7 separate regions of the Homo sapiens genome follow, and regions 1, 2, 3, 4, 5 and 6 are each reported to be linked to region 7. The links are microRNA targets in miRTarBase. Many come from high-throughput screens and were not tested one by one. Region 7 holds a microRNA gene; each other region holds the end of a gene's coding sequence.
The links. The annotated mature microRNA hsa-miR-500b-3p reads GCACCCAGGCAAGGAUUCUG and lies in region 7 at 1,983-2,002, shown strand. An mRNA with a match to its seed (bases 2 to 7 or 8) in the 3' UTR can be bound and repressed. Matches are read on the target gene's strand: a 7mer-m8 pairs with bases 2 to 8, a 7mer-A1 pairs with bases 2 to 7 and ends in A, and an 8mer does both.

Region 1: the mRNA of MEIOC is a reported target of hsa-miR-500b-3p. The part of its 3' UTR that is shown has no 7-base or 8-base seed match.
Region 2: the mRNA of OPTN is a reported target of hsa-miR-500b-3p. Seed matches in the 3' UTR shown: 8mer at 3,354-3,361.
Region 3: miRTarBase lists TMEM119 as a target of hsa-miR-500b-3p. Seed matches in the 3' UTR shown: 7mer-m8 at 1,015-1,021.
Region 4: the mRNA of TMEM74B is a reported target of hsa-miR-500b-3p. Seed matches in the 3' UTR shown: 7mer-m8 at 469-475.
Region 5: miRTarBase lists C3orf18 as a target of hsa-miR-500b-3p. Seed matches in the 3' UTR shown: 7mer-A1 at 2,676-2,682.
Region 6: miRTarBase lists DCAF16 as a target of hsa-miR-500b-3p. Seed matches in the 3' UTR shown: 8mer at 3,346-3,353.

The regions. Positions count from the first base shown.
Region 1 is chr17:44,673,893-44,677,959 of GRCh38, reverse strand. MEIOC (meiosis specific with coiled-coil domain) reads right to left here. Exons shown (of 8, transcript NM_001145080.3): 8 at 2,159-3,984. The coding sequence ends at 3,764. CCDC43 (coiled-coil domain containing 43) reads left to right here. Exons shown (of 5, transcript NM_144609.3): 5 at 1-520. Among named protein-coding and RNA genes, the nearest start is that of CCDC43, 14 kb to the left of the region's middle.
Region 2 is chr10:13,136,559-13,140,612 of GRCh38, reverse strand. OPTN (optineurin) reads right to left here. Exons shown (of 15, transcript NM_001008212.2): 15 at 2,305-3,868. The coding sequence ends at 3,747. Among named protein-coding and RNA genes, the nearest start is that of MCM10, 23 kb to the left of the region's middle.
Region 3 is chr12:108,588,169-108,592,235 of GRCh38, reverse strand. It overlaps TMEM119 (transmembrane protein 119), which reads left to right. Exons shown (of 2, transcript NM_181724.3): 2 at 1-2,385. The coding sequence ends at 704. Among named protein-coding and RNA genes, the nearest start is that of TMEM119, 7.9 kb to the left of the region's middle. RefSeq lists an enhancer at 2,730-3,458.
Region 4 is chr20:1,177,118-1,181,184 of GRCh38, reverse strand. It overlaps TMEM74B (transmembrane protein 74B), which reads left to right. Exons shown (of 3, transcript NM_001304748.2): 3 at 1-615. The coding sequence ends at 337. LOC124904855 (a long non-coding RNA gene) reads right to left here. Exons shown (of 2, transcript XR_007067486.1): 2 at 1,233-4,067. Among named protein-coding and RNA genes, the nearest start is that of TMEM74B, 5.8 kb to the left of the region's middle.
Region 5 is chr3:50,555,894-50,559,960 of GRCh38, forward strand. It overlaps C3orf18 (chromosome 3 open reading frame 18), which reads right to left. Exons shown (of 6, transcript NM_016210.5): 6 at 2,132-3,844. The coding sequence ends at 3,764. Among named protein-coding and RNA genes, the nearest start is that of C3orf18, 9.8 kb to the right of the region's middle.
Region 6 is chr4:17,799,717-17,803,778 of GRCh38, forward strand. It overlaps DCAF16 (DDB1 and CUL4 associated factor 16), which reads right to left. Exons shown (of 3, transcript NM_017741.4): 3 at 939-4,062. The coding sequence ends at 3,775. Among named protein-coding and RNA genes, the nearest start is that of DCAF16, 9.0 kb to the right of the region's middle.
Region 7 is chrX:50,008,740-50,012,806 of GRCh38, forward strand. MIR500B (microRNA 500b) reads left to right here and starts at 1,933; the gene lies at 1,933-2,011. All of the region lies in intron 3 of CLCN5 (chloride voltage-gated channel 5), which reads left to right. MIR362 (microRNA 362) reads left to right here and starts at 225; the gene lies at 225-289. It overlaps MIR501 (microRNA 501), which reads left to right and starts at 983; the gene lies at 983-1,066.

The DNA of each region.
Region 1 (4,067 bases), not on the chromosome of region 7:
GAAAAACTGGGAGAGTCAAAAGTGAGCAGAAGCTCTCCATTTCTACTTCTGTCACAAACCACATTAAATTGTAAATAAGGCCCTTCTCCACTTGACTTCAGGCAGCAGATTGTCTAGAAGCCTAAGGACAGCAATTTCTCTGACAAGACAAAGTAGATATTTTATACCAGGGGTTGGCAAACTACTGCCCACGGGCCGAATTTGGCCCAGTCTGTTTTTGTATGGTGCAAACTAAAAATGATTTTTACATTTTTAAAGAGTTATAAAAGAAAAAAATATGTGGTCTGTGAAATCTAAAATATTTACTACCTGGCCTGTTGGAGGAAAGGTTTGCCAATCTCTGTTTTATACCATTAACTATGAGATTAACAAAAACTTTTACCTTTGTGCAGAAGGTTAAAAAAAAAAAAACATGGTTAAGGAAAAGGAGACATGTTACCTCTTCATACACTCCTATAACTGTGGCATTGCAAAAAATAAAAATAACCACCTTTAAAAAAATAAATCTTATTTAAATTGCTGTCTTCTGACTTATTTTGATTGCTTCTACGTACCCATGGAAATGAAATATGTGTGAGTAGTTACTTAGGAATGTGTTGATTTTTATTTTATGCTTTGTTTTGATTAGCCCTATAACTTATATTCCACTAGTGGAAGCTCTTCCTGGAATCCATAAATCCTCTTTCTCAATTTTCCTTTTTGTGAAGTAGGAATTAGATCAGAAAGATTAGCATGTTTTTTGGAACATCAGGAAATTGGCTTAGAGGTCCTTACTATTACAGTCTTAGTCCTTTATGTGGTGGTAGCGATAGGGTATGATAGAGCCTATTTTAATTTAGTAATCCTTATTTTGGGATTTTGGGTTGTTCTCACCTTGATTTTTGTCACTGAAGGAGTCAGGTTATATCCACGGTCCCCTGAAGGGTACTTGTTTCAATTTGTTAGTAGTCAGTTCTTTCTTCTGGGACTCTGCTATGTATGTCACAGTTAAGTATACTCTCAAACTAATGCTTAAACAGAAAATAGAGGATCAGCTCATTAGGCTTTGAGTTTAGTTATCCACTTGACTCAGGTGCTAATAAATCCTTTACGTCTAAAATGTTCAGTATTGCAAAGGGCATATTTTTTTTGTTTGTTTTTTGAAACGGATCACTCTGTCACCCAGGCTGGAGTGCAGTGGCGCCATGTTGGCTCACTGCAACCTCCACCTTGCGGGTTCAAGTGATTCTCCTGCCTCCCCCTCCCAAGTAGCTGAGACTACAGGCGAGTGCCACCACACCCAGCTAATTTTTTGTATTTTTAGTAGAGATGGGGTTTCACCGTGTTAGCCAGGATGGTCTCGATCTCCTGACCTCGTGATCCACCCGCCTCAGCCTCCCAAAGTGCTGGGATTACAGGCGTGATCCACCGGCACCCAGCTGCAAAGGGCAAATTTTAAACAACCATATCTTCTATGGTAAGATTGAGTTTTAGGCCAGATTTTGGATTTCAGTCATAAATTCTCAACCCTCTAAAACTTTATAGTAGCAGATTATTCAAGTGAGAAGGACACTGATAACAACTCAAGGTAATTTTGCTTTTTCCATTAAAAAGAATGAGTACACCAAGTTCTTTCAGATTAGAAATGGCGGGAGCATCAGTTTTATCAGTTTCACTGCAAATTTTGTAAAAGTTTTATAATGTTTTCATAGGTTGTAATTCAGAAGTACAATGTTTTATAGGTTGTAATTCAGAAATACAAGTACATAAGAACCATCTGTTAGAGGATATGCCACTGAAAGGGACAACCGACTAATTTAAAAATTATCTATTGGGTGATATGATTAACAATATTTCAAAGAATTTTTTTAAGTGTTTGGTTCTTATTAACGGACTGGTATTTCATTTCTGACCAGTATCATGTAAAAGCTTCCCTAAAATTTTTATTCTGGTTTACACGGATTAGCATAAAGATAGAGCAAAAATTTCATCTTTGAAGGAGATCTGGTTAGATCCATGGATATCTGAATGGCATTGATTTATAAACCAACATTATTACTTGTGCGTTAATAATGAAATCTAAAACTTAGTATAAGTTCTTAAATGAAATTCATTTGACTTTCTGATATGAGTGACTCTTAAGGTTAGAAACATATGAATTTAGAAAAATGAAACCAAATGTTTTCAACAAAGTAATTTATTTTTTTCCTGAGACTAAATTCAGTACAGTATTTGTTTTTATAACATCCAACATGTCTTATGTTAAACTTAACCACTTTCTATGCAGTGACTGTGGTGAGATGATCTATTTTATTTGACTACCCTCAATGTAATTCATTTGGGTAGTTCTAAGGCATATCAGTGATCAAAATGTTTCTCCCTACAGTTACTCTTGCATTCTCAATCAGTTTCTTCTGCACATCATCTAAAGAAAATTTATGTGGTATGATTACACTCTTTTTTTTTTTAATACCAGAATTTCTAAAACTAAGAAAAACACTAACATTTAAAACATCAGTGTTTCTAGTCAAGGATATTTCAATTAAATTTCATCAGTACATTATAGTTTAACTCATGCTAGAAATGTTAAAACCCAAGATCTTCTGAGTCACATAATACCAACATTTCATATTAACGAATAAATTACTCAAGTTCTATACAAAGATACTAAGTGATGAGAAACAGAAAAAGTTAAGCTTTCAATAGTTTTAAAAAAATACAGAAGCAAACTAATGAACACAACTACGCAAAATATAGGCTAACCAATTGCAAGCTAAACTAGTTAGAGATTAACCTTTAAAAAATACATTTTAGAACTTAGAAGCAAACTAATGAACACAACTACACAAAATATACACTAACCAATTGCAAGCTAAACTAGTTAGAGATTAACCTTTAAAAAAATACATTTTAGAACTTCGTGACACCCTCATAAAAGGCAGCAAACTAAGGGTATTAAAACAGTAGTCATTATTTCAGTTACTGTGCATCAAGTCTAAAAGATCCAGATAAAGGGAATGTTTTGTGATTCAATTTAAATAACTTTAAAATTGGAAACATTTAACAATTGATAATATAATTAAAATTTAAAGAATATACACAAATGATCTGAATAGGTTTTATATTCAGTAACTTGCATGGTTTTTACACTGACACTTTTATCATTAATTTAGGAGAATCAGATGCATTTCCCTCCATATACCTAGGCATTAAGATTCCAAATTTATAAATATGGTAGTATAGTATTTTAAATATTAAGTTTGTACATGAATATTGGGTTTATCCGTATTTTCCTTTGTTTCCCAGGTATTATCCAGTTTTGTAAGGAAAACACTTTGATATCACAATCAAAACTTGTCTTGGTTACTAGGCTGTAGCCGTAATTGGGTTACAGTCACTTAGATTCATTATTTGGAATTATACTTAACTAAGACAAACCTAAATGAAATTTATCTCCTAGAAGAATTTCACATTTGCATTTACCTGCATGGCAGAATGAGTTTAAGCACATTTTAGCTGTTAGGAAATATTTAATTTACTTAAACTTGTTATCTGACTACTCAGAACTCTGAGTAGTCAACTGTACCTTTGCGTTTACTTAAAACTATATCGGATTCACTTCAAATAGAAGATTTTTAAATAGAAGTTAGACTTCATTAAGGTACTGGTATTAACTTTAAATCTGAAAGAAAACATACTGAAAGTTTGACAAGTTCATTAAAACATTTTTAGCATGTCTTGGTATATTTATCAGCTTTTTATTCTTCTTTCTGCTGGCATTTCCTTAATGTTTGTTTGTTTCACCTCTCTGGTTCATTGGATTGCTACTATTTATGCTTTCATGGACTTTATCTTCACAGTTTACTGTATCTTGTAAAGGCTTTACCACATCAGCTGTACTGGCTGTTTTTGGCAAGGTCATCTGCAGTGCACACCACAGGGCAGTGCGTGTTTTCCGAGTAGCCACACACATCTCTTTAATTGCAGAAGCAAGGGCAAAAACATCTGTAAAATAAACATTCAGGGTCATTTCATATTAAATGCCATTTAAATATCTGTTAAATCTTACAAAACCCAGTGCTTTTGCT
Region 2 (4,054 bases), not on the chromosome of region 7:
AGATGATTGGAAAAGATCTTTCCCTGTATGAAGCCAGTCCTTAAAGACTGGAAGACAGAGTTGTTTTTCAAATACATGGATCCCGACACAAAATCACAAGACACATGAAGAAACATATGAAAATATGGCCCAAAGAGGCAAATGAAATCTCTAGAGACTGACCCCAAGAACTAGAGGTATATGACTTACCTGAAAAAAAATTCAAAAGATGTTCAGTGAGCTCAGGAAAACGATGTATGAACAAAATGAGAATATCAACAGAGAGAGTATAAAAAAGAACCAAACAGAAATGTTGGCAGTGAAGAATAAAATAAATTGAAAAATTTATTAGAGGGGTTCAACAGCAGATTTGATAAAGCAGAAGAAAGAATGAACTCAGAGGTTATTTGAAATTATCCAGTCAGTGGATCAAAAAGGGAAAATAATTTTAAAATGATGAAAGTCTAAGGAACTTCTGGGACACCATTAAGTGGACCAATATAAACACTATGGGAATTTAAGAAGAAATACAAAAAGGGACAGAAAGCTTCTTTAAAAAAAATAATGGCTCAAAATTTCCCAAATCTGGGGTAGAAAATAGACATCCAGATTCGAGAATTCCAAAGGACTCCAACTAGAATGAACCCAAAGACATCCACATTGAGTCATTTTAAAATCAAAAAGCAACTTGTCATGAACAAGAGATCCTTCATAAAACAGTGGATTTCATAGCAGAAACCTTGCCAGATGGCCAGAAGGGACTGACATAATATATTCACAGTGCAGAAGGGGACAAACTGCCAAATAAGACATACTATGTCCAGCCAAACTGTCCTTCAAAAATGAAAGAGAAATAAAGACCTTCCTAGGCAAATATAAGCTCAGGGAGTTCATCACCGCTTGATTTATTTTCAAGGGTTGAAAGGGATTCCTCTCACACCAATAATCCTAGCACTTTGGGAGGCTGAGGCGGGAGGACTGCTTGAGCCTAGAAATTTGAGACTAGCCTGAGAAACACAGTGAGAATCCATTTCTACATAAATTTTTTTAAAAAATAGCCTGTGGTGTCCCTGTGGTGCCAGCTACTCAGGAGGCTGACGGTTTATAAGAAACCTATTATTGCAGTAGCAAATAGCCCGGCCATTGGGCTAGGGGCACCCATGCTGCCTCTCTGTGATATGGATTGGGTTAATGAAGAGGCTTAGTTTCAAATGCCTTATACCACCCTCGAGCAGAGTCCCCATGGCTCTTCTACCTTATGTCTCCCAGGGTAACATGAGAGCATCGGCAAATGGAACGGTGCTCAGCAGGTGGAGGCACGGGACTGGGGCGGGGGGTGGGGTGGGGAATGGGGGGTAAATGAGTAGCAAAGGCCTGGTTTCCCAGGTGCTTTTGCCTGAAACCTTCATCCAGGAAGTTATGGTTTGAATGAGGGAGGTATGTTAAATGAAATAAGCCAGTTACAGAAGGAAAAATACTATGTAATCCCACTTATAGGAGGTATGTGAAACTCAGAAGCAGAAAGGAGAGTGGTGGTTGCCGGGGACTGGGGAGGGGAGAATGGGGGCTGCAGTTGAATGGGTGTAGAGTTTCATTCACGCAGGATGAAAAAGTTCTAGAGATCTGCTCTACAACAATGTGCACACAGTTAACAATACTATCCAGGATAGTCGTAAACCTGTTAAGAGTGCAATCTTCAACTATGTATTTTTACAGACACAAAATTCCTAGGAGGTATAGTTAACTGGTCACATGGAACAGAGCCTTTGAAGGGATATTAGAATAAATAAATGAGGTAAGATGTGCACAGAGTTTATAAGCTATTTACCAAGCTGGAAACAACAGCCTTAATTTAAACTGACTACGTGAAATGGCCTTCATTTGTAATTCTTCCAACTATTAAACAAACGATTTGGTCACAAGCTTAATAAGCCCATTCATGTTATTATTTCAGTCTGGCTTTGCTGAATATTTTTACTTGAACAAAGTAAAAGGATTATGTCCAATAACTTTAAATGTGAAACCATTTGGTTTCCTTCTCTGTTTAGGAGACTATAGAAATATATTTCCTCCAGTATAAGATGATAAGGGAAAAAATTTACATTAGAAACCATAACAAAGAAAAGTAAAAATGTCAGAGTTACTTTAGAAATGTCTTTAACAAATATTCTCCCTGAGGTGTGGTAGGGGACTCGTTTAATTGAAATTACTGTTGAATTTGTATCATGTGTTCTCTTGGCATGAAGATATAATGAACTATTTTGATTCTTATTGAAGTGTGTGTGTGTATAGTCAAGTTTGTCTAGGAGAGATTCTTAAGACAAATTTAAACAAAAGAGATCTTTTAATTTTTTCTTAAATGCTTTAGTATCTCAATGCATAAACACACTGTTTACTTTTACAGCTGGTCCAGTGTTATTTACTCTTGGCAAATTGTAGACTTACAAAACAAGGCAAATCCCTACCTATTCACCTTCTCAGCAAGAATGACTTCTAACTCACACAGCACATACTGGGCTCCAGTAAAGGGATCTGCTCATATCCATAGAACTAATGAAAGATATATGACTAAGTATACAGCTTAAATGAAGCCAAATGAGCTTAATACAGAAAATATATATGATGATATTAATCATATATAAACAATGTAAAAGATTCATAAGCAAAATTTTATTTTGCCATCACTAATTCTTGTGATTATGAAGATATAACCTAACCTAGGAAGAAAATAGGCAGCTGTTCTTTTTAGAAATTAATTATCTACTGTACAAGCCCACAGGCCTGCAGGTACAATGAAAGCATGAAGGTAACTTCTTTACACTGTGAATGGGTAAAGAAATCCAATGAGGCCAATGTTATCGGTTTCATCGATGCCAATATTTTTTCACTTGTCTTGATATTAAGTAAAGGCTAACTGCCTATGTGAAAACTTTGGTAAAATTATTGTGGCTGCAATAAAACTACAACATACACACATAACCTCCAACAGATCCATTTTAAATGAAGAAAAACAACTACAATTCGTTTTTAAAAATGCTTCAAAAACAGCACATACTGTGGCCACTTCATTGTTCCTGCATCCCTAAAAGGTTCTTAAAATTAATCAGTGAGGTTTCTTCCATCTAATTACATGAACTTTGTCACATGATGTCACATGCTAGCTAACTGCATGAGCAGTGCAGCTGCTCGCATCAACCAAACATAAAAAATATTAAAATTATTATCAGAAGAGTAGTAGGTAAGGATTCTACTTTGCGAGTTGATGGAACTCCACCAAAGGTGTTCTACGTAGAACAGGTACCTTTTCTTCTCCTTCCTTCCTTCTCCTTCCTTCCTTTTTTTCTTTCTTTCTTTCGAGACAGAGTCTCCCTCTGTCACCCAGGCTGGAGTGCAGTGGTGTCGTCTCGGCTCACTGCAACTGCCACTTCCTGGGTTCAAGCAATTCTCCTGCCTCAACCTCGCGAGTAGCTGCGACTACAGGCATGCGCCACCATGCTCGGCTAATTTTTGTAATTTTGGTAGAGACAGGGTTCCGCCATGTTGGCCAGGCTGGTCTCAAACCCTGACCCCAAGTGATCCACCCACCTCGACCTCCCAAAGTGCTGGGATTACAGGCATGAGCCACTGTGCCCGGCCTGTTTTCTTTCTTTTAAAACAAGAATAATGAGGCAAAATATTTGAGTGAAAACAAATAACACAAAAGCACAACTCTTGGAGGAAAAAATCTGACATTTACCAACAGTTTTGGGGAGGTGATACATCAACACTTAAATGATGCAATCCATCACGTGAATCTGTAACGTGTCTATGTCAGGCAGAACCTCTCCACACTTGGGGCAGGAATGAATCGGAATATTCCGCTGTTGCCGCCAGTCCCTGTCCTCAGCTCCTGGGAATAAGTATGATAATTCCATTAGTTCCATTTTGCAGGCAGTTGTGTTTGTTTCACTTGAAGAACAGATGGCGAGTTTTAACATCAGTTCAACTTCGTATTCAACACGTAGTGGGACATGAGCACAGGTGTTTGGTCTTTAACTGAAGTCATCACGATGCACATAGAGAAAAATCTCTCCAA
Region 3 (4,067 bases), not on the chromosome of region 7:
CCTCCCCGAGCCTCCCGCCACCCTGGACCCCGGCCCTCAGCCCCACATCGATGGGGCCCCAGCCCATAACCCTGGGGGGCCCATCACCCCCCACCAACTTCCTGGATGGGATAGTGGACTTCTTCCGCCAGTACGTGATGCTGATTGCTGTGGTGGGCTCCCTGGCCTTTCTGCTGATGTTCATCGTCTGTGCCGCGGTCATCACCCGGCAGAAGCAGAAGGCCTCGGCCTATTACCCATCGTCCTTCCCCAAGAAGAAGTACGTGGACCAGAGTGACCGGGCCGGGGGCCCCCGGGCCTTCAGTGAGGTCCCCGACAGAGCCCCCGACAGCAGGCCCGAGGAAGCCCTGGATTCCTCCCGGCAGCTCCAGGCCGACATCTTGGCCGCCACCCAGAACCTCAAGTCCCCCACCAGGGCTGCACTGGGCGGTGGGGACGGAGCCAGGATGGTGGAGGGCAGGGGCGCAGAGGAAGAGGAGAAGGGCAGCCAGGAGGGGGACCAGGAAGTCCAGGGACATGGGGTCCCAGTGGAGACACCAGAGGCGCAGGAGGAGCCGTGCTCAGGGGTCCTTGAGGGGGCTGTGGTGGCCGGTGAGGGCCAAGGGGAGCTGGAAGGGTCTCTCTTGTTAGCCCAGGAAGCCCAGGGACCAGTGGGTCCCCCCGAAAGCCCCTGTGCTTGCAGCAGTGTCCACCCCAGTGTCTAACAGTCCTCCCGGGCTGCCAGCCCTGACTGTCGGGCCCCCAAGTGGTCACCTCCCCGTGTATGAAAAGGCCTTCAGCCCTGACTGCTTCCTGACACTCCCTCCTTGGCCTCCCTGTGGTGCCAATCCCAGCATGTGCTGATTCTACAGCAGGCAGAAATGCTGGTCCCCGGTGCCCCGGAGGAATCTTACCAAGTGCCATCATCCTTCACCTCAGCAGCCCCAAAGGGCTACATCCTACAGCACAGCTCCCCTGACAAAGTGAGGGAGGGCACGTGTCCCTGTGACAGCCAGGATAAAACATCCCTCAAGGCTGGGTGTGGAGGCTCACACCTGTAATCTCAGCATTTTGGGAGGCCAAGTGCGGACATCACTTGAGACCAGGAGTTCCAAACCAGCCCTGGCAACATTGTGAGACCCATCTCTATAAAAACAAAAAACAGTCCACTAAATCAGCCACATTAATTGGGAATCATATGTCACAGGTCATTTGTGGGGCAAACATCACTGCTTTTCCATCAAGGGAGCAAAGAATAAGTGGGAGTTTTGGAAGAGTTTGGATGAGAGACGCCAAGGTGCCCAGCGTTCGTAAGGCAACATGCAGCCTGGCGTGAAGCAGTATTTTGAAACTGCAAATGGTTCCCTTCTTGTGTCCTTTCAATGCTGAATATTTTAGTGTCATTCTGCCTGTGCTCAGAGCTCCAGCAGCAGAAGTGTGTGTGGTTAATTAGGACACTTCTGTGAGAGGACCCCTGCACACATTACGACAGGTCCCTAAATGAGCATTTCCCAAACTAGGTTCCCCGAGGCACTCTACGGAAACAAGATTTTTTTTTTTGAGACGGAGTCTCGGTCTGTCACCCAGGCTGGAGTGCAGTGGTGCAATCTTGGTGCAATCTTGGCTCAGTGCAATCCGCCTCCCAGGTTCAAGCGATTCTCCCGCCTCAGTAGCTGGGATTACAGGTGCCCACCACTGCGCCCAGCTAAATTTTGTATTTTTAGTAGAGATGGGGCTTCACCATGTTGGCCAGGCTGGTCTGGAACTCCTGACCTTCAGGTGATCCACCTGCCTCTGCCTCCCAAAGTGCTGGGATTACAGGCGTGAGCCACCGTGCCCGGCCCAAACTACTTTTTAAAACAGCTACAGGGTAAAATCCTGCAGCACCCACTCTGGAAAATACTGCTCTTAATTTTCCTGAAGGTGGCCCCCTGTTTCTAGTTGGTCCAGGATTAGGGATGTGGGGTATAGGGCATTTAAATCCTCTCAAGCGCTCTCCAAGCACCCCCGGCCTGGGGGTGAGTTTCTCATCCCGCTACTGCTGCTGGGATCAGGTTGAATGAATGGAACTCTTCCTGTCTGGCCTCCAAAGCAGCCTAGAAGCTGAGGGGCTGTGTTTGAGGGGACCTCCACCCTGGGGAAGTCCGAGGGGCTGGGGAAGGGTTTCTGACGCCCAGCCTGGAGCAGGGGGGCCCTGGCCACCCCCTGTTGCTCACACATTGTCTGGCAGCCTGTGTCCACAATATTCGTCAGTCCTCGACAGGGAGCCTGGGCTCCGTCCTGCTTTAGGGAGGCTCTGGCAGGAGGTCCTCTCCCCCATCCCTCCATCTGGGGCTCCCCCAACCTCTGCACAGCTCTCCAGGTGCTGAGATATAATGCACCAGCACAATAAACCTTTATTCCGGCCTGAAGTCTCACCAGTTTTCTGGGGGGTGGGGGAAATGAGCCTGCTGGGGAGGGGCTCTTGCATGGGGATGGGGACAACTTTCTGGGGAGACACATCAGCCCAGTCCTGGAGGGTGAAGGGACAGATTGATGTGGGAAACAAAGGAAAGACCGGTGCTCCCGAGGAATGGGCTGGAACTCATGTCCCCAGGGGTGGAGCACCAGCTCTGGACTTGTGGCCACGCAGACCCAGGTTCCATGCCCAGCTCTGCCACTGTGGCCATGGGAGAGTCACTCACCTCTCTGTTTCCCCTGCAGGTGGTTGAGGACTGGGACGGGTCTCATGGACAATGCCCCCCTCACTGCACCCTTGGCCGGGATCGGGAGTAGGAGGCAGCCCTGGCCCTGCAGTCGGCCTCTGCCTTCTGTCTCCCCACCCACAAAACTCCTCTTGGTCTTTGATGGCAAGTTCCTGCAGCGACTTCTCCCCCGCACCCTGGGCCTCAGGAGCTGCCAGCTGGAATCCAGATGTGGCTGGGGCTGGGAGCATGTGCTGGGTCCCTGGGGCTGGGGGGCAGTGGGCCATCCCCTGCAGCCCCTCCCCTCCACCGACCCCACCTCCAGCCGGAGGGGGCCCCAGAGTTTTGGGTTTCATAACACACAATAGCCTCTGTCTCACTCAGTGGGGAAGGGCCCTCCCTTTCTCAGCCCAGCCAGGCCTGCCAAGAACAGCAGGAGGGTGGAAGAGTAATACCTGTGTGTGCTGCGTGGCTCTGACCAAATCGACCAAATCATTCAACTTCGCTGGGTGTCACGGGCTGTGCTTTCTTCTTGTTCCCAAGCTCCTGCGGGGTGTTAGTTGTTGTGACGTGACTGGGAAGTGCATGAAGCTTCCCTTGAATACATAAAAATCTAGTAAAACAGAAGCAATCATTAGAGACCCTGGGGGTGCAGACGGGGGTGAGCTCCCTGATCAGCGGCTCCAGTCTGCAGTCTTCCACTAATGCTCAGCGGGACCCTCCAGAGGACATGGAGTCCATGACCTCAGCCATAGCCTGTGACCCCCAAGACTGGTGGGGGATGAATGAAGGAGGTGTTCCGAGCAACAGAGCAGTTCACCTCTTCCTCACCTCTGAGCTTTTACAGCTGCTGTTCCTTCTGCCTATGACACCTTTCCACCCCTCCCAACCCCCTGCTGCCTTGCTAACTTTCCCCTTATCCTTTAGCTTCTGGCCTAGATGTCCCTTCCTCCTGGGAGCCTTCCCTGATAGCTTCCACCCCACCCCCCTTCCACAGTCCCTTGGCTCAATGATAATAATGGCTTCCAATTAATGAGCCCCTGTTATGTGCCAGGCCCTGCTCTCAGTACTTGGCATCATTAACTCATTGAGACTTGCAGCCCTCTGAGGTGGGCACTGTTATTATTCTCATGTCACAGATGTGGAAACTGAGGCCCAGAGAGGTGATGATGTCGGCTGCCCAGGTCCCAGAGCCAGGATTCCAGCCCAGCAATTTGATTCCAGCGTCTGAATTCTCCACTGGGCTCTAATGCTTCTTTGAAGAATGAATGAATGAATCCCTTGGGAAGGGGGCAGCAGGGCTCCTCTCCTGCTTAAAGCCACTCCAATCTGCTCTTACATCTGAGATGGGGTTACCTAGAAGGGGCATTTTATGGGCACACATCTGGCTGGGCACCAGTGAAC
Region 4 (4,067 bases), not on the chromosome of region 7:
TGAGGCTCGAGTCAATCCGGACACAGTGACAGCGCGGGAGATGGAACGACTGGAGATGTACTACGCCCGCCTAGGCTCCCACCTGGACAGGTGCATCATCGCAGGCCTCGGGCTGCTCACGGTGGGCGGCATGCTCTTGTCGGTGCTGCTCATGGTCTCCCTGTGCAAGGGCGAGCTGTACCGCCGGAGGACCTTCGTCCCCGGCAAGGGCTCCAGGAAGACCTACGGCTCCATTAACCTGCGCATGAGACAGCTCAATGGGGATGGGGGCCAGGCCCTGGTGGAGAATGAAGTTGTCCAGGTCTCAGAGACTAGCCACACCCTCCAGAGGTCTTAAGAACTAGCCCACCTTATCTGGCTGCTTTAGCTCCAGTGCTACAAGGTCCACCCCCTGCTCCCGCCCACCTGACCCCTGCCAAGGCCCTGGGGTTTTAAACTGAGCTCACATAGGGCCTTGTGGAAGAAGTACTGGGTGCTGGAGGGAGAGCTCGGGGCCCAGCCCATGCCCCACACGGGCAAGCAGCCCACTGATCTGTTTTGTAGCTGAGGTTTTGCATACGGTTTTGTTTGGAGGATGGCTTCTGCTGCTAAAAATACAAAAGTTTGGAAACCGCTGCTCTTGGAGGATGAGGTTTCTTGGCATTTCTCAAGATTGGGAGCTGTTTGAAAGGTTGCCCATCCTCTTCCCTCATGCCTTGGGGAGTGAGGGACCTCTGCTGTCCTTATTGGCTGAGTGAGGGTGTTGATTGGCCGTGGAGGGGTCCCTTTCAGCCCTGATCATCTAAGGTGGGGGAGGTGGCTTCATGATGAGGGGAGAAGTCAGCACCAGAGTGACCCCCAGTACCCCCACTGACTAAACTGTGATCCTACCCTCACCAGGCCTCAGTTGCCCTGCCTTCAAGTGAGGGGGTTGGACTGGATGACCCCTCAGGTCCCTCTAGTTCTTCCCTGGGAATGGGAACCCAGTCTCTATCTCCAGTCACCCCTCCAGGGCAGGAAGGCATCCACCAGGCACTAACCATTCTCCCTGCCATTTTCTGGCCTGACCTCAGGGACCACCACAGCCAGCAGCTCTCATGGTCTCAGGGAAGAGCTCCCTGGTGGGGTTGGGTTCAGTTCAAAGTTTGCTACAGCCTGGTTTTGGTCTTGGGGTCTAATTTCCTGCAGTGACACATTTTTACAAAGCCAAGTGCACAATATTACCCAGTTCTCTGGGCAAGAAGGATCTTTTACACAGGAAAGGGTGAGGGCTTTATTGTATTTCTGTGGGCATGATGCAGGCCTTGATCACCTTCTCCTCCATAGTATGTCTCTTGCTCCTGACCTTATTTGGATAACAGGAAAAAAAAAAATTTATGCTGAATTTGTAACCTTAGTCTCCCTCATATAGTAGTAAAGTGAAGCCACAGTTTATTTGGGGGAGAAATCAGGCACATTTGGGTGGCCTGGACACGCTGGCCACATTGCCATTTGTGTTTTTCTTATGAAATGTTTCTAGGTTCCTGCAGACTTTCTTTAAACTCTTGGTAAGGAAAGGAAGTAGGCCCTGGGGCAAGGAGATACAGGTGTTTGAGGACTGTGGGGAGGCATCCTTCAGTCTGAATGGACCCAGAGGGCTTTGAGAGCACATGCCTTCTAAGCCACTGGTGTAGAGACCCTACAGGAGCCATTTTAGTGAATCCCCTGCCCAATGTAGGTCCTACTTACTCCATCTCAGTTGGCCACATGGGCCGAGGATCCTGTTCCTTGGGGGTGGGAGGGTGGGGGGGCATGGGGTCTGTAGTGTAGAGAGGCCCTGATTAGCTGTAACTTGAGCCTTCAGTCCAGTGAGTTAAACATCTGGGGAGTGTAATATCACAGCTTCTATGACAGATCAAATATCTGCTCCTACTGGTAGGTTTTACCAAGAGCAGAGAGCTAGAGGAAGACTGGAAAGGACAAGGGTTGTTTAGCTTGGCTTCCCAGGTTTTTGTTGTGGTATTGAAGGGGTATGGTGTGGAAAGAGCAAAGCTCCAAGATGGTAAAAGATTCACAAGTCCTAGGCTTCCACTGTTGTGTCGCTTTCTCCCAGGCTCCAAGTAGGCACAGCCACAGAACGTGGCATGAGCTGTTCTAAGTAAACTACATAGGATTGGACATCCCAAATCATGGGCTAAGGCTTTTCAATCCATAATGATAATTAAAAAAATATCAACCAAGTCATATGGATTACTGTGATGGTGGCAGACTCATTTGGATACTAAACCTGTTGAGTGAATGCATCTGGGACCATCAGTTCATATCAGTTTAAATGCAATGAGTTTATTTAGGGGAGAAATTGGGCATATTTGGGTGGCCTGGACATGCTGGCCGCACTACCATTTGTTTTTTTCTTACGAAATGTTTGATGTTAATCATCAAACAGATTTAGGGGCTAAATCTGTTTGATGATTAAATCCCAGGAGTCTCAGGTTTTTCTAAGCCAGAGAAGCCTGCTTTGCATTCTAATGTTGAAAGTCCTTTAGAAAATGTGTATAATGGACTGAGGCGTTATTACCTTGTCAGTGAATTAAGAAAACTTAAGAGATGACAAAAGCATTTCCCCATGATTACAGCTGAGATCTGCCAGCTGATGGATCAGAAACAGGTTTAAGGAGGAGGTGATTAGGAACACGGAGTAGGATGCTGAGAACTTTCTTTGCAGGCATTCCAGGGGCCTCTGTGGTTACTGGAATGTGCCTCTCCTCCAGGAACTGCCTCTCCCACCTAACCTGCTCCTAGGGCCCCAAACCTTGCTTTTCCTGGTGCATCAGAACAGATACCGATTTTGGAGTTGGTAAGACTAAAGTTGGAATCCAGGCTCTGCCACTTACTGGCTGTGTGACCTTGGGCAAGTTACTCCACCTCTCTGAGTCGGGATTTCTCTATCTGTGAAGTGGGATTAATGAAAGCTCTGCCTCAGGGTGGTGGTGCAGATTACAGATAAAATGGAGAACTGCATAGTATGAGGTCCAGGGATGATGATGCTCTCCTTCCCCACCTCAACTGGGGATAGCTGGATTAGGCCTCAAACGCTGTGGTCAACCCTTCTGCCTTTCTTCTATCACACCTCACATTCCAGATCAGCGCATCTTGTCAGCTCCACTTTCAGAATCTGATTGCTGTCCACCCTCGGCTGTCACCGCCAGTCCAGGGTTGCTCACTGGTGTTCTGGCTTTCTCTCTTACCCCCTTCTCCTCCCCTCCTCCCCGCCCCATCACCAGGTTCATGCTCCACTCAGCAGCCAGAGGAAGGCCAGAGGCTGGTCAGGTCAGGCCACTCCTCTGCTCAAAACTCTCCTATGGCTCCCTCTCCAGGCAAAAGCCAAAATTCTCACCACAACCAGTGGCAGATTTATAGCAAGACTGGCAAAGCTTAAGTGTCCGGGCCTCTCACTAGCACAAGCCCCTTCCAAGGCCCTGAATTGGTTTATCTATCTTGAGGATGCCCCACTGGACTGCATAAGCTTCAGGTACCCCCAAACCAGGGTTCATCCCTCACAGTGGCCTACAAGGCACTAAGCAATTGGGACCCTGTGCTTCTCTGACCTCATCTCTCACCCCTTACCCCTTGCTCACTCACCCCAGCCACACGTGCCTCTTGACCATTCCTCAACCTTACTGGGCACGCTCACATCCAAGGGACTTCAGACGTGCTGCTTCTTCTGCCTGGAAGGTACTTCCCCTCAGTATCTGCAAGGCCCACTCCCTCACCTCCTTAGGGGCTTTATTCAAATATCTTCTCCTCAGTGAAGCCTTTGCTGAACACCATATTTAAATTTGTACCCCACCCCACCTCATTCCCTTTTGTCCTTCGCTGCCTTATTTTTCTCTGATCACTAATCATGACCCAGCAGGCTGAGCCTTGTACTTGTCTTTCCCACCCACGACCTCTCCTGCTGGACTGCAAGCTCCATGAAAGCCGGAATTTTGGTCTAACTGGTTCTTGCTGTACTCCCAGTGTTAGAAACATGTTTGGCACATAGTAGGTGCTCACTGTTGAATGAATGGATGAATAAATGTAACAAAAGCTTCTTATACCTGCCAGTG
Region 5 (4,067 bases), not on the chromosome of region 7:
CCCTCAGAGGACAAGGTGTGTGGGGATGTCAAAACAGCATCTCCTAGGGTTCCCCCAGATATCATTGACCATGGCTCTCCACACTGAGGCCTGCTGAGGGGTGCAGCTGGGCAGGATGGGGTGGGGTGTCTGCCCTCAGCCTATAAAATCCCTAGGCACACCCTGCCCCCACCCCACCTTCTTTTTCCTACAGATGTAGATATAGAGATATATAGACCTAAACAATGTGTGTTATGTGTGTACACACACATACACACACATCTTTTTTCCTATTTGATATCTGTCTCCTCCATCTAAAATGGAAATGCAGAGTCTAGGTTGGTTCACCCTCAGGACCGTGGTGCCAGGCTCATGATAGACGCTTAGCAATGTTTCTGGAAGGAATCCACAGCAAGGTCAAGCTGCTCTACTGGAGTTTCTGGGCCCTCCCCCGCAAGAACTTTCCTTTACATTCTGTAGGCGTCCCCAGTGTCTGCCTGGAGCCAGGCAATGGGATTATTTCATTCACTTTGGCTCGAAGGTGACATTTCTCTTTATTAAACAAGAAGATGGCCTCTGAAGGCGCCGAGCCGCATCCACCCAGATACCACCTACCGCAAACTGCCCAGCTTCTGAGCCCAAGCCCTGGTTGCTACTCCCAAGGAAGGGTTTTACTTATGGAAGTGTGTGTGTGTGTGTGTGTGTGTGTGTGTGTGTGTGTGTGTGTGTGTGTGTGTGTGTGTGTGTTGTCGGGCAGGGGGCATTTCTCAAAGGGCTCCATTTAATAGTCAATTCCAGGAGTAGTGAGGCAGGCAGGTGACTCCATCTCATTCCACTGCCTGGCTGAGGGTGGTGACCACACCAGCCTCAAGGCCTCAAGGAGGACACACCAACCAGAACCTTTCACCCCAATATTTATTGACCCCACACTCTGGAAGACCTGGGAACTTGCTGGGAACTTGGTTTTCCTGCAGGACTGGGAATAAGAGCTAGAGGGCAGAAGGTGGGTGGAAGGGGGAGAAGGTGCCTGTGAGGGCACAAGAGGTGTGAACATGTGCCCTGGCACCCACAGAGACAGCTGCCCTGTGCACATCGTCTAGCCAAGCCCACCCCGCAGGAGAGGGGCATGGGGCAGGCAGCAGGAGCGGATGGGCACTGGGGTTCTCCTGGAGCCCCCATCCAGGTCCTGGTCCCTGGGAGCCAGCCTTATTCCACAGGCCCCTTTTCTTCAGGATCCCCCAGACGCTGGATCTTCTGAAGCTCCCACATCCCTGGGCTGAAGGCCCACCCAACAGGGTGGGAGGACACAGCCCACCACCGCCTTTCCTCTCACTCCATGCCCCTCCAGATCCTGCCAATCTGCTGAGGGGAGGAGACCTCTTCCAAAGATCAAGGCCATCACTGACAGGCTGAGCTGTGACCCCAGTGTCGTTGGCTCATGGGCACGTGGCCCTCCCCTCACCTAAGGCCCTGTCCCCCAGCCCCTTCCTCTAGCTCAGCCCTCCATCGTGGAACTGGGGGAGTGGGGGCTCGCCCGCCCCTTATTTCCATGACGCTGGCCTGAAGGCTCAGCTCTCTGGGGAGAGCCTAGATGTCACTTAGAGTCCTGGTTTTGTGGGACTTTCAGGGCTAAAACTGGAATAGTCCTGGGAAAACCAGGATGGCTGGTCACCCTAGTGTCATTCTCCCCCAAACCCTTCTGAACCCTGCGGGTGGATTCCACACAGATGACCCTAATGGCTTCCCACCCCCCACCCTTCCCCTGCACCCCTGTGCTCCAGAAAAAGCCACACTATTTTGCTTCCTTTCATGTTTCAGACCCAGCTCCTTTGGGTCCCGAGGTGCCATACCCCCGTCGGGGCCCTTGGGGCTCAAGCCCCCTTCCTCCTCCGGTCTCACAAGGTCCTGTCCAGTTGACCTTTCCACCCTAGGGGGTGACAGGCCTTGGGACCCCAATCCACAGTTGGGAAATGAAGCCCCAGGGCAACCTCGAAGTCAGGGCCAGAGGCATTTCCTCAGACGGCTCAAGAGAAACCTGGGGTGCCACCTCATAGCTGTGATCCAAGCAACTATCCCCAGGCCCCCCACAGCCCCTCACCCATCCTGCCCCTCCTAGGGTTCCACACCCCAAGCGTCACAGGCTCACACACTCTCCATGTAAACATCTTCATTACATCTTTAATGCTCTCACGTGGAGCTGCTCTGGGTTAAATTACAGCTGTATGCATCCTGAATTCCTGGCAGCCTCCAGTCGACTCAAGTGCTAACGTATTTATAGCATTTAGAGGAGGGAATAAATCCAGAACCTTCCCCATGGGGGCTTCCTAGGCCTTTCCCTCCTGACACATGGCATTTGCCCAGTGGAAGGTCTGCATACACTACCCCTGCATCCCCTCCAGCCAGCAGCGGACAGTGACGGTGGAGAGGCTGGGCACGGGACATGCCTCTGTGCATGCTTGTGTGCATATGTATGCCCAGCGTAAAAAAATGCCCTGCTCTTGTGGTCTGTCTCTGCCCAATGGCTTGCCAGGACCCCTGGTATCAGCCCTGACCCTCCAAGGCTTATGGAGAGGCCAAGTGCAGGGACCCATCTCCCCACTCTCTAAACACTGAACGGCTCTTCCCATAGATGGGATGGAGGTGGGGAATTCAAACATAGACTAAGTTTTTTAGATGTTTTTCTGAAGTGCAATCCCTCACCCACTTTCAGGCAGTCATAACTGCCCCCTCTAGCCTGCAGCCTGTGATTACTGCCCTCAGACCAACAGCCTCTCCCAACCCCAGATCCTCATTAGAGCCCAAGACAGGGAGCCGTTTTCAGAAGCAGGTGAGCCCAGTGAAACAATGCAGTGGAGAGAGGAACCGTGCTGTGCGTGCTTCCCTCTTCCCTGCAGTCCCTGAAGATTGAAGGCAGAGAAGATAGCCTACCCTGATGCTCCACTACATACCATGGGGTAGAGGTCGACTTGGAGGGTGGGGCCAGTGTGGACAATCTCATTCTGCCCGCTGTGCTGGGACAGGCACATGTCTGCCCATGGGCACACTCATGCACATGCATGAGGCCTCTCGGCAGGTCTGGGGGGGCTGCATCCTTCCACTTCCATTCCCCTACTTCCTTCCCCCTCAGCTCCCATCCTAGCTTGGCCCCAGTAACATCTGGTTGCCAAGGATGGGTGGCTGGGAGACCTCCTGGACCCTCCGTAGTATGGATGGACCCTGGGTGTGAATTGCCCTTCTCCTGGCATCCTTGCATACTGGACAGTTTCAGCTCCATCTCTGGGCTTCTCAGGGCCCATAACAGATGCTGCCCTACCCTGTCCCTATAACTTGGGTGGTTTCCTCTCCCCACCCCAGAGGAGGCTCCAGATTCCAAAAAACAGGTCTCTCCCTAACAGAGGGAAACCTCCCCTTTCCTCCCCCAATCCCTCCCACTCCGTATCTCCCTCATTTCCTCCACATTAGCGGGGCAGACCCTGATGTGAGGGATCTGGACAGGGGATGAGGAAGCCAGCAGAGGCTCTTGACCTTCTCAGCATGAGGGATGCCCTCTGTGCCAGGGCCCTCAGGTCAGGAGAAGTCAGTGGTCAGAAGTCCAGCCTGGCTAGGGCCCTCTCTTAGAGTCTAAAGTCAGCAGGTGGGTCTGGAGAACAGCTAGGACCTGGCTCAGCCCTCTTGTGTCTTGGCAGGGAAGATCTTCAGAGTAGGTCTTGACAATCAGGGAGTGGGGAGCTCTGTAGGCACCGTGATGGGTCTCTATCAGAAGTCCAGGCTTGTCCCAGGCCACTCACGCATGGATGGCATTGGCCACATCGGTAAACACCAGCCGGCTGGGTCTCTGCAGTGGGCCCTGGGAGGGCAGAGTAGTCTGCAGGAAGACAGGCAGGGGCATCAGAGACCATGGGCAAGGCCATGCACTCACTGGCCTGGTCACCTCCACCCTCACTTCCTGGTGCCTGCTTATGCTTGGCACTAGCAATGGCTTCTGCCTGGAATGCCCTCCCTGCAAGCTCAGCCTACAAATATGACTTGGCTCAGATGACTCCTCCCCAGCTTGCCCTGTCACCTTGGAGGCACTTACTGTGTTGATT
Region 6 (4,062 bases), not on the chromosome of region 7:
TTCTATCCCCTAGAGGGGACCTATCATATGCCCTCCTGCCATGCATGTATGGATTTTTTTCTTTTCTTAGGAAGCAGATGGGATTAAAAGACGTGATTATGGTCTTTGAGGCTCAAGGTATCTGGACTGTTTTAATAAAAATGTTGCCTATGGCTGGGCACGGTGGCTCATGCCTGTAATCCCAGCACTTTGGGAGGCTGAGGTGGGTGGATCACCTGAAGTCAGGAGTTAGAGACCAGCCTGACCAATTGAGAAACCCCATCTCTACTAAAAATACAAAATTAGCTGGGCGTGGTGGCACATGCCTGTAATTCCAGCTACTCGGGAGGCTGAGGCAGAATTGCTTGAACCCGGGAGGTGGAGGTTGCAGTGAGCCGAGATTGCGCCATTGCACTCCAGCCTGGGCAACAAGAGCGAAACTCCATCTCAAAAAAAAAAAAAAAAAAAAAGTTGCCTATCTGCACTGAGAAAGTAAAAGACAGTTAATGTCCACTGGTTTAGAAATAGTTTCCTTACTCCTTTGATAAATATTTCTATAAATAGAGGATAAAATAATCTTTTTATCTTAATTATGGTGACTGCATTTAACAGAAGCCAACATAGGGAGTGCAAAGGTAGTAAATTCATTCCCAAACCCAGTGTTTATGCCACACAAAAAGTTAACTTAAGGCTTATTTAGGTACCTGTTATTTTGTGCAACCTGGAATTACTTAAAATACATAAACAAATAAGCTCACTTTGAATCTTGACTGAATATCAGACATTTTCTTCTTCAAGTGTGTTTCTTCTCTAGAGACGCCAAGTCATCTCCTGTCAGACATACTATATAGATTCAGGTACTGTATCTATTAACTCTATTCAGTACTTAGTGAATGTAGAATATGCCTTAAGCAAAGTAGGATCTATTTCATTTGTTGAGGACAAATGACCATACTCTGTTCAGCATGTACAAAGCTATTGGTTTATTCAGCTGCCAAGCTGGGGAAAGGCTTCCTTTCGAAGTGAATAGCAAAAATGCATTCATGAGCAAGGCACTTTTATACACACACAGAGAGAAAAAGGAACGTATTATGAACACATGAACATAAACATATTTTAATATTCAGACCTCTTCCCTACCTCCTCCCACCTCCACTTAAACAAACAAACAAAAAAAAAGGAAACAGTTTCCTGTAACATTTTAGAAACCAGTTTCACAGAATACCTACATAGGAACAATTTCTGATACATTCAGTTACACTAACAATATGATATGGTTTCAGGTCAATAATTTCCACTAACAAATACTTTTATTCTACAATTCCCTCTTTTTTCCTTTAGACAAGACAACTAAGGCTCAGCAGAAATATTCACTAGGTTATAAGCATTCTTCTCTCTTCTTAAAGTTGCTATATATTTACACAATTTGTGATTCCTAACCTTTTTTTTTTTTGAGACGGTGTCTCACTGTTGCCCAGGCTGGAGTGCAGTGGCGCGATCTCAGCTCATTGCAACCTCCACCTCCCAGGTTCAAGCAATTCTCCTGTCTTAGCCTCCCAAGTAGCTGCGATTACAGGCACATGCCACCACGCCCGGCTAATTTTTATATTTTTAGTAGAGATGGGCTTTCACCATGTTGGCCAGGCTGGTCACGAACTCCTGATCTCAAGTGATCCACCTGCCCTCAGCCTCCCAAACTGTTGGGATTACAGGCATGAGCCACCATGCCTGGCCTGCTTCAATTTTTTGATGCCACTTTGTAAACGGCACTTAATTATGGAAAATAGGAAAAAGCAAAACTAAAATAAGGAAGAGGATATATATATAACTTTTCACAATCTCTTTTCTGATTCCCTTTAGATGCCCAGTCAACCAGGACCACACACAGATTTCATTTTATTTGTAGAGTATATGAAAAGATTTAATAGTCTCATGCATTTTATTTTACGTATACTGATTTCTACGTTTTGACTGACTATTTAAATAAACAAAACAAGACTCATTTACAAGGGCATATACTCTTCCTTGTTTGGCCAGAAGAAAATCTATAGCTAAATCTACTTAGAAAAACAATGCTGCTAAAACTCTTAACTTCAGATTGTATTAGGCTGAGATTTTCTAATAACAAGGTTCTTTAAAATTAGAAGGGTTCAATCCCAGCACTTTGGGAGGCCGAGGCAGGTGGATCACGAGGTCAGGAGATCAAGACCATCCTGGCTAACACGGTGAAACCCTGTCTCTACTAAAAATACAAAAAAATAGCCAGGAGTGGTGGTGGACGCCTGTAGTCCCAGCTATTCGGGAGGCAGGGCAGGAGAATGGCACGAACCCGGGAGGCAGAGCTTGCAGTGAGCTGAGATCATGCCACTACACTCCAGCCTGGGCGACAGAGCAAGACTCCGTCTCAAAAAAAAAAAAAAAAAAAAAATTAGAAGGGTTCCTGAAAAGTTTGCAATGGATGTGGAAAGTACTTGAGCTTTTACTCCAGGAAATGCTATACAGATTAAAATTTTAATCCATTAGCAGTTAATGCTGAAAGCAGAAATGCTCTCTTAATCATTTTTCCATTCATCTTTTGAAATGTTATTTACTCTTGACAAAAGTCTGAGTACCAAGATTCAGGAAACACATTCCCTACAGAACAGGTGTTTGTTTAATCCCAAGGGATGATCTTATAGGCTGATTTAGTCAGAGACAGCCTGGTGGGAGACTCCGATATAGAACGTTCATGCTGTAATTTTAAGTACCATAATAAGTTTGTAGTAGTATAGGCTAGGCTTAAAACTGCACTCCTCCTGCCTCCCCGCCCCCTTCCAAAAAAAAGAAAAAGTGAAAGGAACTCTAAAGAGTGTCATATGCAGGCACATCTATATAAAAGCTGGGAAAGAAATTCATATCCCTGCCATTTTCCTTTGTGTAGTTACCCAGTTTAATTCAACTACCTCAAAAAAAAAAAAAAAGAAAAAATAAAAGGAACCCTAAAGAGTGTCATATGTAGGCACATCTATATAAAAGCTGGGAAAGAAATTCATAGCCCTGCCATTTTCCTTTGTGTAGTTACTCAATTTAATTCAACTACTTCCACAGAAATGTATGTTAGAGAAGAGTATGCTCAGAAAGGTATTATTGTGGGTAGCTAACTTCTTGCTTTCAACAATGGCTGTTCTAAAGTCTGGATAACAAAAGGGGTGGTGGTCTACTTTTCTTCATTAATAATCAGGTATCTCATTAAAGCCATTCAGAAAGGCAGAGTAAATTGGGGTGGGGAGGGTGAGAAGTGAGTGTGAAGAATATTCAACTATCTTTTGTAATATGGTCCCCTTAACTAATTCTCCTTTTTTTTTTTTGAGACTGAGTCTCGCTCTGTCACCCAGGCTGGAGTACAGTGGCATAATCTCAACTCACCGCAACCTCCGTCTCCTGGGTTCAAGTGATTCTCCTGTTTCAGCCTCCCGAGTAGCAGGGATTACAGGCGTGCACTGCTGCGCCCGGCTAATTTTTTTATTTTTAGTAGAGACAGGGTTTCACTGTGTTGGCAAGGCTGGTCTCAAACTTCTGACTTCAGCAGATCCACCCGCCTCAGCCTCCCAAAGTGCTGGGATTACAGGTGTGAGCCACCATGCCTGACCTTGATATTATCATTTTATCCACAGGGTTTGTCAAAGGGTATCCTCATTGGCTTGCCAGGGCATAAGAGAGTTTGACTGAGAAGGCATTAGTGGGCTGTGTAATGACTAACTTTGTACCACTTTCTCAATTAGCAACATCAGAGATATCAGAGCAAATGGTAGATCTTTACAGTGATGCAGTTAGGAGTTTGTTAACTGCCTTTTGGAAGTCAGTGTAAGAATAAGTAGTGTTGATGGGTTCAGTACGAGTTGTTTCCTTAACTGTTTTAGTCAGCCAGCCACAGCAACACCCAGAAACACATGAATTAGGGATCTGTTTTAGGTATTCAGGTATGGGAGTGGCTCTACTCAATGTTCGGCTTAGCTGTTTGGTGGCAAATTGCAGTGCTCCATTTAGAGTGGCATGATCTCTAGAGAGCCGGCTGGGACTTGTAAGAGGCTTTTGAAAAGGTGG
Region 7 (4,067 bases):
GTGGACTTCTCATTACCACTGTCACCCACAAACATACACAAAAGCATGAATCTTCTCTGATCTCACATGGAACTCTGCAGGAGAAAAGATTCTCTGCCTTTCTGTAAAGTCCCTAGTAAATGACACTGTATATACATGAGAGTGAGACTTGGTTATAGCTACACATGCACACATACAAACACACAAAAAGGGCAGGTGTCAGAGCCTTCTTGTCTGCTCCCCCTCTTGAATCCTTGGAACCTAGGTGTGAGTGCTATTTCAGTGCAACACACCTATTCAAGGATTCAAAGAGGCTGAGCCTTGTCTACATGTAGAAGGACCAACAACCTGTCCCCTTCTTTCACATGTTTGTGTTTGCTATGCGGTGCCAGATCCTGCACTGGGTGGTGGAGATACAACGGTAAATAAGACAGCTAAGGTCCCTGGGCTCTGTAGAGGGCACCTGTGGGAGAATGAACTTCATCATTGCCCTGGACAAGCTTACACCTCTTTGAGAGCATGAGCTTTCTGTTTACTCCCAGCTTACTATGTGTCAGATACTGTAATGGGGAAACACACATTGGGTGATGAGACTTGCACAGCCAGTCTTTGCTCTCAGTGAGCTTATAGTTTACCAGAGAAACAGAAGAGAATGAAGTATCCCAATTTTCTGTACCATCTTCCAACATGTGCATGTACATGTGTGCCCACATACAGTTTGTCCCAACCTCCTTGCTAGGCCCCAAATACATCCAGCACCTGCAGACCCTCAAGTGTGATCTGAAAAAGATGCCACTCATATCTTTCATTCTAGTCTGAGGTTTTGTCTGAGAGGGCATGTCCATGTGGCCTTGTGCAGGGGGATGAATACATATGCTATCCCTGAGGAGAGGCATCTGTCTTAGCAAATGCACACAGAGATACTTTGCAGGAATGGGACCATGAAAGTCAAATATATATGGAGATATACATGCAGGGTGCAGGTGCCTGAGTCTTCTGCTCTGCTCTTCCTCTCTAATCCTTTGTCCCTGGGTGAGAGTGCTTTCTGAATGCAATGCACCCGGGCAAGGATTCTGAGAGGGTGAGCCCCCTCTGCGTGGAGAACAGAAGATCTGTATGTCACCTCTCAGCTGCTTGCTGCTTGCCTGCCTGCTCTCTGACCCTCATTCATTCTTTCCTTCCACAAATAATATGTATTGGGCACCATGATGGGCATTGGACACAGAGAAATGAACAAGGCAGACTTCGCCCCTGCCTTCCTGGATATTATAGCCTGAGAGGAGAATGGACTTTGTCACCACTCATTGCCCCTGCATATACTGAGGGTGAGTGGGCCACATAGGAACTTCTTATCTACCCTCTTCCCACCTTAACCCACCCATAAGTGTGAGTCTTCTCATTCCTGCTGTCACATTGATACTTGTTTCTTGTTTTTTCCTTCTTTCCTTCCTTCCTTCTTTTCTTTTTCTTTCTCTTTCTTTTCTTTCTTTCCTTCCTTTCCTTTCCTTTCTTTTCTTCTCTCTTTTCTTTTCTTTCTTTTTTGATGGAGTATTGCTCTGTTGCTCAGGCTGGAGTGCACTGGCACCATCACAGTTCACTGCAGCCTCAACCACCTGGGCTCAAGCGATCCTCCCACCTCAGCCTCTCAAATAGCTGGGACCACAGGCTTGTGCCACCATGCCTGGCTAATTTGTGTTTATTTTTTGTAGAGATGGGGTCTCACTATGTTGCCCAAGCTGGTCTCAAACTCCTAGGCTCAAGCAGTCCACCAGCCTTAGCCTCCCAAAGTGTTGGGATTATAGGTGTGAGCCACTGCACCCAGCCTGATACTTGTCGAAGCAACTTCTCTCTACTTTAGTTCAATGCAAGGTTAATGCACTAGGCAAGAACAGCAAGCCTTCTTGTTAGATGCACATGTGAGGTGTACAGGTACTGGAATCTCCTGTCCTGGTTCCCCCTCTCTAATCCTTGCTACCTGGGTGAGAGTGCTTTCTGAATGCAGTGCACCCAGGCAAGGATTCTGCAAGGGGGAGTGACATCTTCGCATAGGACAGAGCACTTCTACCTCCTCCTTCCATCCTTTCTATGACTATTTGTTGAGTACCTACCTACTCTATTGCAGGTGCTGTCCTGGGCAGTTGGCCCACAAGAGAATGAGCCATATCTGGTTCCCTACCTTCATGGAGTGTACAGTTCAGGGAGGAGAATGGACTCCTTCTCATTCATTATATCTGCATGTCCTGAGGGTGGGTGGGGTACAGGGTGGGTGGGGTACAGATACATGTTGGAGAATCTACTAAACCTCAGTACAATCACACATAAATACGCTGTGTGCAAGAGAAAGGGCCTGACTTGGTTACATCCACAGAGACATGTCCTCACAGAGTGGTCCCTCTGACCTGGTGCATCACTCACATTCTTTCAGCCTGTGTGCCAGTACTGCCTTGACTCACTGTCCCTTTTCAAGAATTCCAAGGGAAGAAGCCTTGTCTACACTTAAAAGGACAGAGCTTTTGCACATCAACTCTCCCTCCTCTTCCTTCCACAGATACTCAAGTGTCTATTAGACAGCAGGTATTATGTTCATCACCAAGGATATAGCAGGGATCAAAATGGACAGGTTGCTACCCTACATTCTGGTAGGGACTCATAAACACACTATACATAAATGTTGTGGATGAATAGGCCACTGTTCAAAAGAATGAAGTAGATCTATATGTTCCTTGTTACCCAGTCTGCATGCACAAGCATGTGCAGGTTCTGCTCAAGTGAAATTCTCAAATGTCCCCAATCCTTGTACACCAGACACACTCAGAGACATGGCCCTGCATGCAGAGAACCCCACCTACTGAAAGGGTAGGAGATGGAGCCTGTTGTGCTCTCCTCTCTCCCATTCTCAGCGTGCAAGCCAGTGAGCTTCCTTAACTCCCTTATAGATGGGGATTAAATGAGGGAAGTCTTCTTACTGCTACTTTCCTTCTTGCTGCTCTGTATAGGAGAGATCCTTTCATTACTTTTCTGTACAGTCACAGATGAACACACTATATGCGGTGAGCCTTCCCTGTAAACCCATGTGAGCACATGTGCACACACGCACACGTGCACACACACATACTCTGTATGGCTGCTTGGGCCTTCAGTCCTGTTCCCCCTCTTGAATCCTGGTACCTGGATGCAAGTGCTGTGTCAATGCGGTGCACCCAGGCAAGCATTCCACGGCTGAGCCTTTTCTGCATAGAGCGAAGAACACCTGTTTATAATCCCCATCCTTCATTCATTCCCACCTTTAACAAGCAGGGGTGGCGCTCCTGTCATGCACCAGACATGGAGAGACAGGGTGGTCAAGAAAGACACAGAACTCATACTCACATGCCTAGTGAGCATGTTTAAGAGAAGGAACTTCCGTTGCCCACATTGTTCATGCATACGTATGTAGCAGAGAGTGAGTCTTCCCATCATCCCCTCTCCAACCCCCCAACAGTGCTCAGCTAGAGAACTACAAAAGGTGTGTCTCCCCTTACACAGAGCTGCAGCCACAGTGTGCATAGGATAATGAGTGTCATTAGCAGCATCTTCTCACTCATGTCTGGTGTGCAAGGCAATAGGCTTTCTACTTGCTGCTTATGCCACCAGAGCTTGAAGGAAAGTGGCCCTACTTGTCAGTCATCTCACACATGCATATGAAGAAAAGACACTTCACCTTTGTATGGTCATAGGAAAATCACCTGTGAGCCAGAGAGTGCTGTTTCTTTTGTACATACACACAAACACAATGGATTTGAAGATGCTCGAGCCTTCTATTCAGGTTGTCCCTCTCTTTCATTCTTCGTAGTTGGGTACAAATGCTATTCCAGTCCATTGCCTTGTACAAAAATTCAGAGAGGGAATCTCATCCATGTTTAAAAGTGTAGAGTCTTTGCATCACCCCTCTATGTCCCATTATTTCATTTCTTTAAGTTATGTATAGAGCAGTGGTTCTCAGTGTGGTCCCTGGGCCAGCAGCATCTGTATCACCTAGGAGCTTGTTCAAAATGCCAATTCTTGGGCTCATCCCTGACCTACTACACCATAAACCATGGAAATCTGTA